Linked DNA regions of Homo sapiens. The protein of the gene in region 4 purifies or fractionates together with the protein of the main gene of each other region. This does not show direct contact. Each region holds a gene or a part of one and is shown on either strand. Other genes may lie near its edges.

Evidence for each region.
Region 1: the proteins of PLD1 (region 4) and ECD purify together in Homo sapiens (co-immunoprecipitation; one large-scale study listed by IntAct). This does not show direct contact.
Region 2: the proteins of PLD1 (region 4) and AKAP11 purify together in Homo sapiens (affinity purification with mass spectrometry; one large-scale study listed by BioGRID and IntAct). This does not show direct contact.
Region 3: the proteins of PLD1 (region 4) and GPT purify together in Homo sapiens (affinity purification with mass spectrometry; one large-scale study listed by BioGRID and IntAct). This does not show direct contact.

The regions. Positions count from the first base shown.
Region 1 is NC_000010.11:73,140,509-73,144,086, forward strand, and holds part of ECD (protein ecdysoneless homolog), read right to left. Parts: intron 978-3,578; coding exon of another isoform or gene 879-977; intron 1-878. UniProt on the Homo sapiens protein: Regulator of p53/TP53 stability and function. Inhibits MDM2-mediated degradation of p53/TP53 possibly by cooperating in part with TXNIP. May be involved transcriptional regulation. In vitro has intrinsic transactivation activity enhanced by EP300.
Region 2 is NC_000013.11:42,296,074-42,299,651, forward strand, and holds part of AKAP11 (A-kinase anchor protein 11), read left to right. Parts: intron 1-974; coding exon 975-1,109; intron 1,110-2,459; coding exon 2,460-2,724; intron 2,725-3,289; coding exon 3,290-3,578. UniProt on the Homo sapiens protein: Binds to type II regulatory subunits of protein kinase A and anchors/targets them.
Region 3 is NC_000008.11:144,502,718-144,506,939, forward strand, and holds the start of GPT (alanine aminotransferase 1), read left to right. Parts: upstream 1-1,422; 5' UTR 1,423-1,587; coding exon 1,588-1,749; intron 1,750-1,886; coding exon 1,887-1,976; intron 1,977-2,053; coding exon 2,054-2,162; intron 2,163-2,247; exon of another isoform or gene 2,248-2,280; coding exon 2,281-2,414; exon of another isoform or gene 2,415-2,449; intron 2,450-2,528; coding exon 2,529-2,772; intron 2,773-3,130; coding exon 3,131-3,210; intron 3,211-3,277; coding exon 3,278-3,414; intron 3,415-3,514; coding exon 3,515-3,689; intron 3,690-3,783; coding exon 3,784-3,939; intron 3,940-4,013; coding exon 4,014-4,126; intron 4,127-4,192; coding exon 4,193-4,222. UniProt on the Homo sapiens protein: Catalyzes the reversible transamination between alanine and 2-oxoglutarate to form pyruvate and glutamate. Participates in cellular nitrogen metabolism and also in liver gluconeogenesis starting with precursors transported from skeletal muscles.
Region 4 is NC_000003.12:171,681,447-171,685,024, forward strand, and holds part of PLD1 (phospholipase D1), read right to left. Parts: intron 1-3,578. UniProt on the Homo sapiens protein: Function as phospholipase selective for phosphatidylcholine. Implicated as a critical step in numerous cellular pathways, including signal transduction, membrane trafficking, and the regulation of mitosis.

The DNA of each region.
Region 1 (3,578 bases), on a different chromosome or scaffold from region 4:
CCGTCTCTACTAAAAATACAAAAATTAGCTGGGCATTGTGGCACGTGCCTGTAATCCCAGCTACTCGGGAGGCTGAGGCAGGAGAATTGCTTGAACCCGGGAGGTGGAGGTTGCAGTGAGCTGCCCCAGCATGGGCGACTGAGCAAGACTCCATCTCAATAAATAAATAAAATAAAATAAAATAAAAATAAATAAATTGGAGGATAGAAGCTCAGAGATCTACACAATTGGCCTTCCTTTTTGGCTCTGAAGCAGGCTCCATGGAACATCATTATGAAGCCACTGATCTCGTATAATTCTTTCTATACATACATGCAGAGACAGGGTCTCTCTCTATATATGTATATATATGTACATACAGTTGTATTATGTTAATAGTACATATACATATAAAACACGTACTAAAAATACATAAAAATATACATATAATATATATTTTATATACGAGGAAAAGAAGATCCAGAAGGAAAGCATCAATTAAAATTTATCTAGCATGTATTAAATGCTATGCTAACACTTTAAATACATTTTCTTATTGAGTCCTTTTGTTACTATTATAGAAGGTAATAATCCTGTTTTACAGATGAGAAAACCAGAACCCAGGGAAGTTCTTTAACTTTTGCAAAGTCTGTATTACCCAGGAGGCGGAGGTTGCAGTGAGCCAGGATTGTGCCATTGCACTCCAGGCTGGGCGACAAGAGCGAGACTCCGTTGGCCGGGTGCGGTGGCTCACGCCTGTAATCCCAGCACTTTGGGAGGCCAAGGCGGGCGGATCACGAGGTCAGGAGATCGAGACCATCCTGGCTAACACAGTGAAACCCCGTCTCTACTAAAAAAAAAAAAAAAAAAAAAAATTAGCTGGGCGTGGTGGTGGGTACCTGTTGTCCCAGGTACTCAGGAGGCTGAGGCAGATGAATGGCGTGAACCCAGGAGGTGGAGCTTGCAGTAAGCCAGGATCGCGCCACTGCACCTCCAACCTGGGCACAGAGCAAGACTCCGTCTCAAAAAAAAAAGAGACTCCATAAAAAGAAAAAAAATCCTCATTCTTTAAGACTTAACTCAAATACCTCCTCCCTGAAGCCTTCCATTATCTTTCTTTTTTTAACATCTCTGCTTCAACCTTAGTGAAAGTTTATTACCTTCTCACTATGACTCTCTTTAGCATTTGATATTCCAGAATGATTTTTATTTTGCCTTTTGTTATGATTATTTGGTTTATTCTCTCTCCTAGTAACGTTTACATATTAATAATACAGAGTAGAGACAGTTCCCCATCACCTACGTGATTTTGCAAGGTATGCAAATGTTTATCCAATTAAAGCAAGTCCTTTATACAACTTGATTTGATCCATTCTTAATAGTTCAGACAGGGTGCCATCAATTTATGTAACAAATCATGTCACCATTATGTCACTCACTCAACACATAAGTATCTCTGTGCATAGTTTCTTTTTTTTCTTTTTCTAAGACAGGGTCTCACTCTGTCGCCTAGGCTAGAGTGCGTGGCATGATCACAGCTCACTGCAGCCTTGACTCTTGGGATCAAGCAATCTTCCTATCTCAGCAAGTAGCTGGGATTACAGGCATTAGCCACTGTGCCTGGCTATTTATTTATTTTTAATTTGAGTAGCTGGGATTACAGGTGCCCACCACCTCATCCGGCTAATTTTTTGTATTTGTAGTAGAGATGGGGTTTCACCATGTTGGCCAGGTTGGTCTCAAACTCCTGACCTCAGGTGATTCACCCATCTCGGTCTCCCAAAGTGCTGGGATTACAGGTGTGAGCCACTGTGCCCGGCCTATTTGTTTATTTTTAATTGACAAAAAAGTGTATAGGTTTATCATGTACCTTAAAAATATTGTAGAGATGTAATCCCAGCACTTTGGGAGGCTGAGGAGGGCAGATCACAGGTCAGGAGATCGAGACCATCCTGGCCAACATGGTGAAACCCTGTCTGTGCTAAAATACGAAAAGATTAGCCAGGTATGATGGCACGCGCCTGTAGTCCCAGCTACTCAGGAGGCTGAGGCAGGGGCATCGCTTGAACCCGGGAGGTGGAGGCTGCGGTGAGCTGAGATCGTGCCACTACACTCCAGCCTGGTGACAGAGAGAGACTCCATCTCAAAAAAAAAAAAAAAAAAAAAAATTGTAGAGAAAGCTAATGTTTCCTTTGATGACCACTGCCACCCATCCCAATCCATTGTCTTGCTCCCCAGAGGTGACTGCTTTCTCAAGTATACTTCGGCACTTTTCTCTCTCTCTGTATGTATATATATTTCTGTTTCTATTTCTTGTATTTGCTGTCTGTCCTTTTGCTGGAATGTTATTCCCCTAAATAACTGAATGTCTCACTCCTTCACTTCATTCAGGTCTCTTTTCAAAGAAAACTTCCTTAGAAAGGCCTTCCTTGACTAATCTATCTAGAAGAGCAGTCTCTACCCCTCTACCCCACACACTGCTTTTTCTTCATAGCACTTACCACCCCCTAATATTACATAATGGCTTGCGGTCTTTCTCCTACATTAGCATGTAAGCTCTATAAGGACAAGGACACTTTGGGTTCATTTATTATATCCCCAGTACCTGGAATAGGGCCTGGCACATAGGAGGCATTCAATAAATATTTGTTGAATAAATGAATATATATGTATCTATAAATAATGTATTGTTTTGTTTTGAGACGGAGTCTTGCTCTGTCACCTAGGCTGGAGTGCAGTGGTGCGATGTCGGCTCACTGCAACCTCCACCTCCAGGGTTCATGCGATTCTCCTGCCTCAGCCTCCCGAGCAGCTGGGATTACAGGGGCGTGCCAACACGCCCAGCTAATTTTTGAATTTTTAGTAGAGACAGGGTTTCCCATATTGGCCAGGCTGGTCTTGAACTCCTGACCTCGTGATCCACCCGCCTTGGCCTCCCAAAATGCTGGCATTACAGGTGTGAGCCACTGCGCCCAGCCTGTATAGTATTTTGTATATTTAAAATTTTTATATGTGTAACATCCACACGGTATATATTTTATTCTTTTTCATTTTCATTTTTAATTTTTGTGGGTACATAGTAGGTGTATATATTTATAGGGTATATGAGATGTTTTGATACAGGCATGTAATGTGAAATAAGTACATCATGGAGAATGGGGTATCCATCCTCTCAAGCATTTATCCTTCGAGTTACAAACAATCCAATTACACTCTATGTTAAATGTATAATTAAGTTATCATTGACTATAGTCACCCTGTTGTACTATCAAATAGTAGGTCTTACTCATTCGTTCTATTTTTTTTTTTTTTTGGTACCCATTACTGTACGTATTTATAACTTGCTTTTTTTTTTTTTTTCACTGCATTATGTTTTTGAAATCTATTCATTTAGATCAGTGGTTCCCATTTAGATCAGTGGTTCCCAACCAGGGACGATTTTGCCGCCCAGGTACCTCTGGCAATGTCTGGAGACATTTTTGGTTGTCATGATTGGGGGATGAGGGAGAAGTGCTATTGATATTTACTGGATAGAGGCCAGGGATGCTGTTAAATGTCCTATGAAGTGCAAGCCAGTCCCTCACAATAAATTATCAGAT
Region 2 (3,578 bases), on a different chromosome or scaffold from region 4:
AGCAAAGGAAAGCTTCACAGTTACATAAACAGTGGTTGAAGTTCCTGTACATATGATAGGCATACTTTTCTTTTTCCCTCGTGCTGCTTCTTAAAAATTTGTGATTCCTACATATTTCCTTTTGTGGCAGTAAAGTGTCTCCTCATAGAGGAGGAAATAACATTTTTAGGTCTTTCTGAATAATGCATATCAGGTGATTATGGGCAAAAACTGCTGTATATTTTGATTGTGGCCTTGCTTGAAGGAAATAATTTGGACAGAAGGAACAAGAGAGGATATATTCTTGAGAACATACATAGCTGGAAAGAGAAGTATTCCAAGATATTTCTTTAATGTTCTTCTTCTCCTTTAAGAGTTACTGATAAAACCATGTTTATAAAGGAAAGTACTCTACAAAGGGTCAAAGACTTTAATAATTCTTTAGCTGGGTAAAATATTTGTGTATAAAGGGCAAACAAGAAGAAGAAATAAAAGCGATTTTCTTTTCCTTTAATCTTCATTAAAATTATCAGTTAAAGTCTAATACAATACCTTGGAGAGGAAAGATAGAAAAACGGATTATATTGTACAGAGTTTTTAAAAAAAAGTTTTTAAGATGTACATTCTCTAGCAAAAAATTTTGTATGAAAAAAATTTCATAAAGTTAAGTTAAGACCTATATGTTGACATTGCTAAAAACTATTAAATGCTTAATTGTCATGGATGTGTTAGGTACCCTGTACAATTTTTTTATAGCTTGATATCAGTACATTTTAAAGGCTACGGGGATAGCCAGTATTTAATAATTTTAGTATATTTTATTTTTGAATTTTTGAAAAATTATCTGTGAATAATAAACTGTATATGTTAACTATTATGAACCAGGAAATTCACTAGCCAGTAGACCTTAAAATTTTTGGATAGGGTCCACATTATAGGAACCTTAACAAAAGTGTTACTCTACAGTGTTACTTATTGTTATTATTTTAAATCAGGATTTAGCTGCAGTTTCTTTGGAACTTCCAGATATTCTGAATTCACTCCACTTCTGCAGTCTAAATGAAAATGAAATTATTTGTATGAAGAATATAAATAAACCATTAGATATAAGCAGTGATCCTCTAAATCAGGTAACTTTTGTAGATAATTTCTAATGAGATTTTTAGGGCAAATTTTACTATATTTGATAAAGATGATTAAACTTTTAAATGCTTGGATGACATTTGTTTTTTTTAAATGGTATCTCAAGGAAATATGATTCATAAGAAATATAACTCATGAAGCATTGACATCCCTGAAGGATATAATAATTTTGGTCATATCTTATAAATTATATTTTTTAACTGTGAAGTTCCGTAGATGGTATGCAAGTACATGTTAATTTTTTCTGAAAATTTATTATTTCTGGATTTCTTGAACTACTTTTACCTTTGTATAAGCTACAGTGACTTTTCCCTATTATGGCCAATTTCAAATTTATATAAATGTTACGCTATATGTTTTAGAGAATGTACTTCAGTTCATTTTCTGGTTTAAAAAAATTCCATGTAAAGTGGACATCTGATGTGTTCTTTATAAATAAAAATGTTACCATTTCTTACAGGTGGTTAGTTTTATAATATTCAGCATTTAGTTCTTTACCAAGTATGATTTTGTTGATAATGCATCAGAGAAAATGCTTTGCATTCTAAGAGATAAGACATATACAATTGAACCAGAAAATTTAAAATTTGGATTATTTTAGTTTTAAAAAAACTGCTATGTTGTTCTTTATAAGGTCTGCCAATAAAACTAGAACTGCTTGCTTCATTTCCTTAATTATGTTCTTTATTCGTATTTGCTTTATTTGCTAGGATATAAGAGGTGATAAGCTATTATATTTGATTTCTAGTTTTTTGAATAAATAATTTCATCAGTATTTACTTGAAAAAAGTAGTATGAGGGGGAAAATCTGGTTACTTGTATTTTTAAAGCTATAAACATTGTAAGTTGTAATGCTAGGGAAATTTAAGTAAAAGGAGTAGACTTTTAACAATTGTGATAGGAAGGAAGATGGCATCATACTTGAAACTACGGGAAAATGGGATTAAAAATAAAAGAAAATAGAACTTGGTTGCTGCCCCCAAACAATTTATAATAGTTAGTGAGATAGGTGAATGATTAAGGAAAATCATAGGGCTGTACAGTAATACAGGAAAACATAATTGCTCAAAGGAATGGATAGTAAGTTTCATAACATTTCAGGAGACTGGGTAGAATTTGAATACCTGGATAAAAGAAGATGGGAGAAAAAAGGACTGGAAAGTGAAAAATGTAGAGAAAGAATTAAGAAGTAAACATTACAAAACCAAGGAGCTTTTCAGGATGCATGAATTTCTTGTTTGTTTTTTTCTCTGAGATTGTCTTATATCTAGGCTTTACTTCATGTTGTTTTGTATTTGAAATTAAAATTGTTTTTATTATCTTTTATCTTTCCCAAGAGTCATCCTTCTGGAATGCTTTGTGTCATGAGAGTGTCACCTACATCACCAAGACTTAGGATTGATTTTATCTTTAGTCTCCTAAGTAAATATGCTACTGGTATAAGGTACACCTTGGACACATTCTTGCATCAGAAGCACCAACTTGAGACCACTGATGAAGATGATGATGATACTAACCAGTCTGTGTCATCCATAGAGGATGACTTTGTCACTGCTTTTGAGCACTTAGAAGAGGAAGAGACTTCAAAGCCATACAATGATGGTTTGTTTTTCATTAGACTTTTTCCTAAAATAGGGAATTAAAATTTTTCAGTTTTGAAAATTTTAAGGCAGGCTTGTTCAGTTGAAATTTATGTTGAGATTTGATTCAATTTAAACCTTTTAACTTTTTTTCTGATTACCTAAGGAAATTCCTTATGATTTTTAAGTTCATTGTAATCTGGTTTTCAGTTTTGCTTATTTCAGGTTTTCATATTTAGTTGGTGCTGTTCACGCACTGGTTACATCATTAAGTGTCTGGAACATTCCTAGGTTCCAATTTTGGAAGAGTTAGCTGGCAGAGTCTCCACGGTAATTTTTCTAACATGCGTGACAGCATGCAAAACATCCCATAGACCAGGTATCCCTAGACATAGAGTAAACTGAAATTATTTTATAAACAGTATATTTACTTTCAAATGTTACTTGGGTGAATCTTTCTGTTAAACATAGTTTAGAAGATACACATAAATATTATATGTTTAAAGTCAGTTTATTCCATGGATTTAAGTTAATTTCCAAAAAGTTTTGTTCAAAAATAATTTCACCATTTCATTCTTTTCCTATAGGAATGAACATTACTGTGCTAAGGAGCCAGTGTGATGCTGCTTCCCAGACGGTTACTGGTCATCATTTAGAAACCCATGATTTAAAGATTCTCATTAGCTCTGGACAGCAGAAGTCATTGGCTAAACCCTCAACTTCCTCAGTGAATGTCCTGGGACATAAAGAACTACCTTCTGTGAAAACTTCAGTCACAACATCAATTTCAGAGCCTTGGACCCAAAGGAGTTTCTATAGGTCATCTAATGCTTCAGATAAAGATAGTGATTTACAGAAAACATTTTTTTCGTCTTC
Region 3 (4,222 bases), on a different chromosome or scaffold from region 4:
GGCTGAGGGCACCGCTGGTTCGTCTGTTCATGGTGGGCGGCTTTGTGTGGCCACCAGTGCTGGGTGGTGTGGGTTTGGGCTGTTCTCCCTCCTGGCTCAGCACGGGCCCGTCAGCCCAGTGTCCTTTGGGCCTGCCCTTCCCCTAGCATCCCTGGTTGGAAGGGTGTCCTCACAGGGCTGTGGGCGGGCCAGGGCTGGCTGCTGGTTAAATTTAGTGTGGGGGGTGGGGCAGCTGCCCAAGGTCCACCTGCCACCAGGGCTGCCACTTGGACTCCCTTGCCAGGGGGCGGGCAGGGGCTGGCTCTGCCTGGGGCCAGGCCCATGTTAACCTGTGCCCCGGCCTGGGGGCCAGAGGGGCAGGCCTGCGCACGGGGAGGCTGTTGTGGCAGCGGAACAGAGACGTGCACGGTGAGAGGCCTGGGGGCCGGCTGTCCAGGGCTCCCGATGGCTTTTCTCCCAGCCAGCAGGATCAGAGGAGCCAAGGTCCGACTTGGGCCTGGCTGGTTGCCCACAGCCCTGCTCAGAGGGCCGGCTCCCTGACCCCCATGGTTCAGGTTTCGGTGCCCGACGCTGGGGTGGGCCAGCGTGGAGCCTGGCCTTTCAGCTCAGCAGGCCTGTGGAGGTGGGGCTCTGACGGCCTATCCCAGCTCGTTTCCTACTCTCTCCTCCAATCGGGAACAAGAGGGCTGGAGAGCTCAGGTCACCCCTAGCCTCGGGTGTGTCCCAAGGGCAACCCCCAGCTGGTGCCTGGTGAAAGGGCATGACAGCAGCCACGGTGTGAGCTGTCCCAGGGCTCAGGGCTGGACTGCCTGGCTCCAGCCCCCTCCCCCAGCCCCTCGCAGTGCTCATCAGGGACCAAGGTCCAGCTACAGAGCTCTTGCAGCCTCTGGGCCATAGCTGCCAGCTCTGGAGGGTCCAGATGGAACCCAGAGCCTGAACACCCCTCCCCTCCCCCCAGCACCCCCTGGATTCCTGAGGCCTGGCTCAGTTAATAGGAGACAGGTCCGCTGGCCCAAGCAAAGATGCGGGTGCCACGAGGGCCAGGCCTCGGCCAAGCCCTGCTGGGGTAAATCCCAGCAGCCCAGGCTCCAGTCTCGCCTCGGGGGTCCCTCCTTGCCAGCTCTGCCAGCCCCTCAGGGCTGCTGGGCACCCCTTCACCTCCTGAGCACCCCAGGTGCTCAGCCCTCTCCCCCTCCCCCCATGTCTAGTCCCTCAGAGCTGTCCGGACTGACGTCTGTACCTACCCCCCATGTGGGTCTCCTGCTCTCCCTTCGTGGGGACACTAGGCAGGCACTGGGCCTTGCCCCAAGCCCCGCCTGCCACCTCACCCACTGCCTCTGCCTCCCTGGGGCAGAGCTGTTCCCAGACGGGTGGGGCGGGGCCCAACTGTCCCCAGCTCCTTCAGCCCTTTCTGTCCCTCCCAGTGAGGCCAGCTGCGGTGAAGAGGGTGCTCTCTTGCCTGGAGTTCCCTCTGCTACGGCTGCCCCCTCCCAGCCCTGGCCCACTAAGCCAGACCCAGCTGTCGCCATTCCCACTTCTGGTCCTGCCACCTCCTGAGCTGCCTTCCCGCCTGGTCTGGGTAGAGTCATGGCCTCGAGCACAGGTGACCGGAGCCAGGCGGTGAGGCATGGACTGAGGGCGAAGGTGCTGACGCTGGACGGCATGAACCCGCGTGTGCGGAGAGTGGAGTACGCAGTGCGTGGCCCCATAGTGCAGCGAGCCTTGGAGCTGGAGCAGGAGCTGCGCCAGGTATGGCCCAGGGCCCCTCGCTGCCCTCCAGGTCACAATGGGGTGGCCGAGTTGGCCCCAGCCCCACTGGCACATGGGACAAGGGCTGAGGGGTTAGGTAGGGCACAGTCTCCCTGCCTGCTCCCCTCCCCTCCCAGGGTGTGAAGAAGCCTTTCACCGAGGTCATCCGTGCCAACATCGGGGACGCACAGGCTATGGGGCAGAGGCCCATCACCTTCCTGCGCCAGGTGAGGCTCCTGCACTGCCCGGAGCACCCCCCCACCCCCAGCCCATGTGCCCTGGCCTCAGCACTCCGTCTTCCCAGGTCTTGGCCCTCTGTGTTAACCCTGATCTTCTGAGCAGCCCCAACTTCCCTGACGATGCCAAGAAAAGGGCGGAGCGCATCTTGCAGGCGTGTGGGGGCCACAGTCTGGGTGAGAGCCAGGGCCAGGAGGAAGCAGAGGGCCGCCCTGCCACTGGAGGAGGGAAGTCCCTTGGGAGGGCTGAGGAGAACTTCACCTGTACTTCCCATCCTGTCCTGCCCGAGTCCAGGGGCCTACAGCGTCAGCTCCGGCATCCAGCTGATCCGGGAGGACGTGGCGCGGTACATTGAGAGGCGTGACGGAGGCATCCCTGCGGACCCCAACAACGTCTTCCTGTCCACAGGGGCCAGCGATGCCATCGTGGTAGGCTGGGCATGGGCACCAAGACATTCCTGACACTGCAGAGGGGGCGCCCAGGGTGGGGGACAGGTGCGGCCCCAGGCCTCGCCAACCCTGCCTTCCCCTTCCTTTCCGCAGACGGTGCTGAAGCTGCTGGTGGCCGGCGAGGGCCACACACGCACGGGTGTGCTCATCCCCATCCCCCAGTACCCACTCTACTCGGCCACGCTGGCAGAGCTGGGCGCAGTGCAGGTGGATTACTACCTGGACGAGGAGCGTGCCTGGGCGCTGGACGTGGCCGAGCTTCACCGTGCACTGGGCCAGGCGCGTGACCACTGCCGCCCTCGTGCGCTCTGTGTCATCAACCCTGGCAACCCCACCGGTGCGTTCCCCGCCGCCCCGCCCCACTCCCCCCGCGCCCACGTTGCGTTCCCCGCCGCCCCGCCCCACTCCCCCCGCGCCCACGGTGCGTTCCCCGCCGCCCCGCCCCACTCCCCCCGCGCCCACGGTGCGTTCCCCGCCGCCCCGCCCCACTCCCCCCGCGCCCACGGTGCGTTCCCCGCCGCCCCGCCCCACTCCCTCCGCGCCCACGGTGCGTTCCCCGCCGCCCCGCCCCACTCCTCCCGCACCCACGTGCGCCCTGGCCCAGGCAGTGCCGGGTCCGCTGGACCCCGGCTGCCCAGCGGAGGGCAGTGCGCCCCCTTGGCTCACCCAGCACTGCTGCCTCCCCGGCACCCCAGGGCAGGTGCAGACCCGCGAGTGCATCGAGGCCGTGATCCGCTTCGCCTTCGAAGAGCGGCTCTTTCTGCTGGCGGACGAGGTGCGCGGCGCGGGGGAGCGGGAAGCCGGGCAACAGTCCGCCCCCGTGACGCCTTGCGCCCTTCCAGGTGTACCAGGACAACGTGTACGCCGCGGGTTCGCAGTTCCACTCATTCAAGAAGGTGCTCATGGAGATGGGGCCGCCCTACGCCGGGCAGCAGGAGCTTGCCTCCTTCCACTCCACCTCCAAGGGCTACATGGGCGAGTGCGTGCGTACGAGGCGGGTGGGGGCTCGCGGGCCATGGCCAGGCCCTCCTCGCCCGATGGGCCACCCCCTCCTCCGCACCTGACCTGGCCGTGCGCAGGTGCGGGTTCCGCGGCGGCTATGTGGAGGTGGTGAACATGGACGCTGCAGTGCAGCAGCAGATGCTGAAGCTGATGAGTGTGCGGCTGTGCCCGCCGGTGCCAGGACAGGCCCTGCTGGACCTGGTGGTCAGCCCGCCCGCGCCCACCGACCCCTCCTTTGCGCAGTTCCAGGCTGTGAGTTGGGGGCAGGAGGGGGTCCAGGTGACCTAATCAGGGGTGGGGGATGCCGAGTGCCGTGCCCTGATGGGCCCTCCCTCCGCGGCCACAGGAGAAGCAGGCAGTGCTGGCAGAGCTGGCGGCCAAGGCCAAGCTCACCGAGCAGGTCTTCAATGAGGCTCCTGGCATCAGCTGCAACCCAGTGCAGGGCGCCATGTACTCCTTCCCGCGCGTGCAGCTGCCCCCGCGGGCGGTGGAGCGCGCTCAGGTCAGGCGGGGGCGGGGCCTGCGGGGTGGGCAGGGGGGGCCGGGCATCCCTCTCTGACGGCTCTCCGTCCACAGGAGCTGGGCCTGGCCCCCGATATGTTCTTCTGCCTGCGCCTCCTGGAGGAGACCGGCATCTGCGTGGTGCCAGGGAGCGGCTTTGGGCAGCGGGAAGGCACCTACCACTTCCGGTGAGGCCTGGCCCTCACTCCCTGTCCCGCCACCCTGGCCCTTCACTCACTGTCAACTCCTTTCAGGATGACCATTCTGCCCCCCTTGGAGAAACT
Region 4 (3,578 bases):
ACTTTTGCATTTCCTATATCTGGGTCTTAAGATGTAGTATCTACCTAAAATGCCTGTTTTTCTACCTTTTTAGTCTCTACCTACCGAATTTCTACATATGTTCAAGGCCAGTTCCAATACAGGCACTGAACAAGTTATATTTTAAAAAATATTTTGGTTTTCAAAATTTTTTGGAATTTAGAATCGTGGTTAAGGGTTTGTAGACCTGTATTTCGTCTGTGGATCAATGATGACTCTTGCAGTAGGAGTATCTTCCCTCAATGAATTACTAAAATATTAGGTTTGTAAAATATTTAAAACTCATGCTCACCTATTAGATAACAAGCTATTTAACAGCACTAGATGAATCTTACACATCCTATCCATTGCATTCCTAAGAACAGTTTAGAAACAGCTTAATATTATCCCTTGTGACGAGACATTCAAATTTGAAAAGCCTGTCTCAACTAAATTGCAAAAATAATTTTTCCCTCACTTACCTATTTAATATTGCTTAAAAGGAAAAGATCAGCACATAGTTGCTGAATAGCATTAGGAGAAACACTTAATGTAGATGACAGGTTGATGGGTGCAGCAAACCACTGTGGCACTTGTATACCTATGTAACAAACCTGCATGTTCTGCACGTGTATCCCAGAACTTAAAGTATAATACAGAAAGAAAAAGAAAGAAAGAAAGAAAGAAAGAAAGAAAGAAAGAAAGAAAGAAAGAAAGAAAGAAAAAGAAAGAAAGAAAGAAAGAAAGGGAATAAAATTCAACACTTTAAAAATAGTATCAAGCAAAATTCTCCCTCTTAGAACATAATTCTGAATGAAAAAAAATCTTGAAAATGACTGAGTGATTTTGAAAAACATATATTTCAGATATGATTCCTAACCACGTTTTTAGTGCAGTTTTTCTATATAAAAACCCATAGTGATGTTCACTCCACACTGATTTCTGTATGACACCAGGAGGTTTAATTCAACAAGGAGCCCAATTCAACATGGTCATATGCGGTCAAGTGAAATTGATATTGCAGAGAGGCTAACTCTCTTTGCATTCTCAGGAAAAGGAAGTCATTAACTCAAGTTCATATTCAGTTTTAAATTTCTAACGAAGAGTCACTCCATGCTTAATTTGGGTTTCAAGTTTTATAAGGCAACCTGAGTTTTTAAGGTATTACATGATTTAAATCTAGAGCCTTGCTCTTTAAACTTCCTTCATTTTTTTAGTAGAACTTTTCTTTTTTGAAAACAAGTTCAGAAGGAACTCCAATAATTAAAACAGATACAAGTGGGATTGTTCTGGTTGAAGAGGTACCAATAGCTGTGGGAGGGTCCTGGGGTTCACCTACTTCAATGTTCTCCTCAAAGCCTTTTAAAAACTCCAGGATCCAAGGAATCGACTTTGGAAAGCACTGCTCTAGAAGGACCCCATGATCCTTTGGCTTTTCTTTTTAGGTAAACTGTTTTCATTTTAAAAAATTAAATTTGTATTTATATTTGACTATAAAAGTAAAATGAAAACAGTACCAACAATGTGGGAAAAAAATAAATCACCTCACGCTCCATCTTCCTAACAAAGATAGCATCATTGAATGTCCTTTGTCAGCTGCCTTCACGAACATATTTTGATACAGTGGCAATTGTCCTCAAATTTTCCTTGCTCTTCCCATAGCCACCTCATTTCAGTTCATGGAAATTCCATCTTTCCAGTGGGGCCAAAGATTTGGAGTCCTCTCCATCTCTCACATCTTGTATCTAGTTCATCGGCAAATGCTGTCAGCTCGACCCTCAAAATATATTCACAACCTGCAGAGTCACCATTTGCCACCCTGGTCTGCTCTGAAGAATGATCCTTGGAAAATGTAAGTCAGCCCTCGCCTACCCTTCGCTCAAGACCATCCGATGACTTCCTATCTCACTCAGGGTCAAAATCTTACAGTGGTCTGCAAGACCTCACATAACCCACCCCAGCCCACCTCTCTGATTTTGTTCTTATCATCCTCTCCTAGCCCACTTCACTACAGCCGTATTCCTGGAACACACCCAACCCCTCTACCTCATGGCCTTTCATACTTGCTATTCCTTCTGTCGGAAACACCCTCTCTCAGTTTCTTATCCTCATTCTTCTCTTTCTTTCGATGTCAGCTGAAAACTAACCTCATGAGAGATGTATTCTCCGATGAGCCTTTACAAAATAGTAACTCTTCTCCTATGCTCTTCCTCCCGGATCATGCTCAACTATTCTCCGTGATAATTATCACCACCTGAAATGTGTTTGACTCTCTATTTGTATACACAGTTCCCATCCTTACCCTCCAACTAGTTAATTGCACTTCATCTGTTTTATTCACCACATCTCTAGCACCCAGAATAGTGATTGGCATATAACAGAAACTCAATAAACACTTATTTAATTAAATAAATAAATCTTCTATGTTTATTTTTGTATCCCCAACTACAGTTGTAATCATTGCCCAATTCCATAAAAGAGATGAACCATTTGTTACCATTCATTATGTTCTTCACCATTTCCCTACTCTTTGACGTTTAGGTTGTTCTCTCTCTCTATCTCTCTCTCTGTCTCTCAACAATGCTACACTAGACATATATTCAGTTTATCAGTGAGGGGTTGTAAACAGATGTCAAGGGTACTTTTCATCAGCAACACCATACACATGTATGATCAGTGTCTCAGATCACCACTGTGGATATCACCTCTGTCAACCTGGGGTAGGCGTGAGTTACTTACTGGACTCAGCACCTCACTCACATCTTTTCCACTTGCTGTCAATCCTATTGCCAGCAACACTATCAGTCATAATTCAGATCCATAATCTTCATGGGTTGGCAACCTCCTTTCCTCCACTTCATTTTTAACTTCAGTAATAAAGCAGCAAAGTTACACATTGAAACGATAAGGCACTACCTGGAGCTGTTTCCAACCCTTTACCTCTAATATCGGCCACTGCATGCACTCTTGACCTGGCTTCCTAGATTTCCCAGAGGCCTCCTACTTCCCAGGACTTTGAAGCTTTGTCATGCACAGGAATTACTGGGAGTTGTCCCTGAATCCACACATACACCCAGTACTAGGTGTATGCTAAATAAATATATGTCTCCCCATATTTGTTCTTCTCCATTTTTATTTTTCAAAAATTTAAAAATTGTTTTTGTGTGTGTGAGAGAGGGTCTCCCTCTGTCACCCAGGCTGGACTGCAGTGGCATGATCTCAGCTCACTGCAACCTCTGCCTTCCAGGCTCCAGCAATTCTCCCACCTCAGCTGCCAGAAAAGCTGGGACAACAGATGCATGCCACCACACTCAGCTAATTTTTGTAGAGAGGGGGTTTCACTGCGTTGCCGAAGATGGTCTTGAATTCCTGGGCTCAAGCAATCCTCCTGCTTCAGCCTCCCAAATTGCTGGGATTACAGGTGTGAGTCACTGCACCTGGCCTCTTCTCCATTCTTAAATATATATCGATGCTGTTATGATTTATAGACACAAATTTATTTAACAGTTACACTGAAGTTTTAGTTCATTGTGTGTAGTTGATTATTGCATTTTTTAAAATGCAGCGTAGCTGGACCAAGC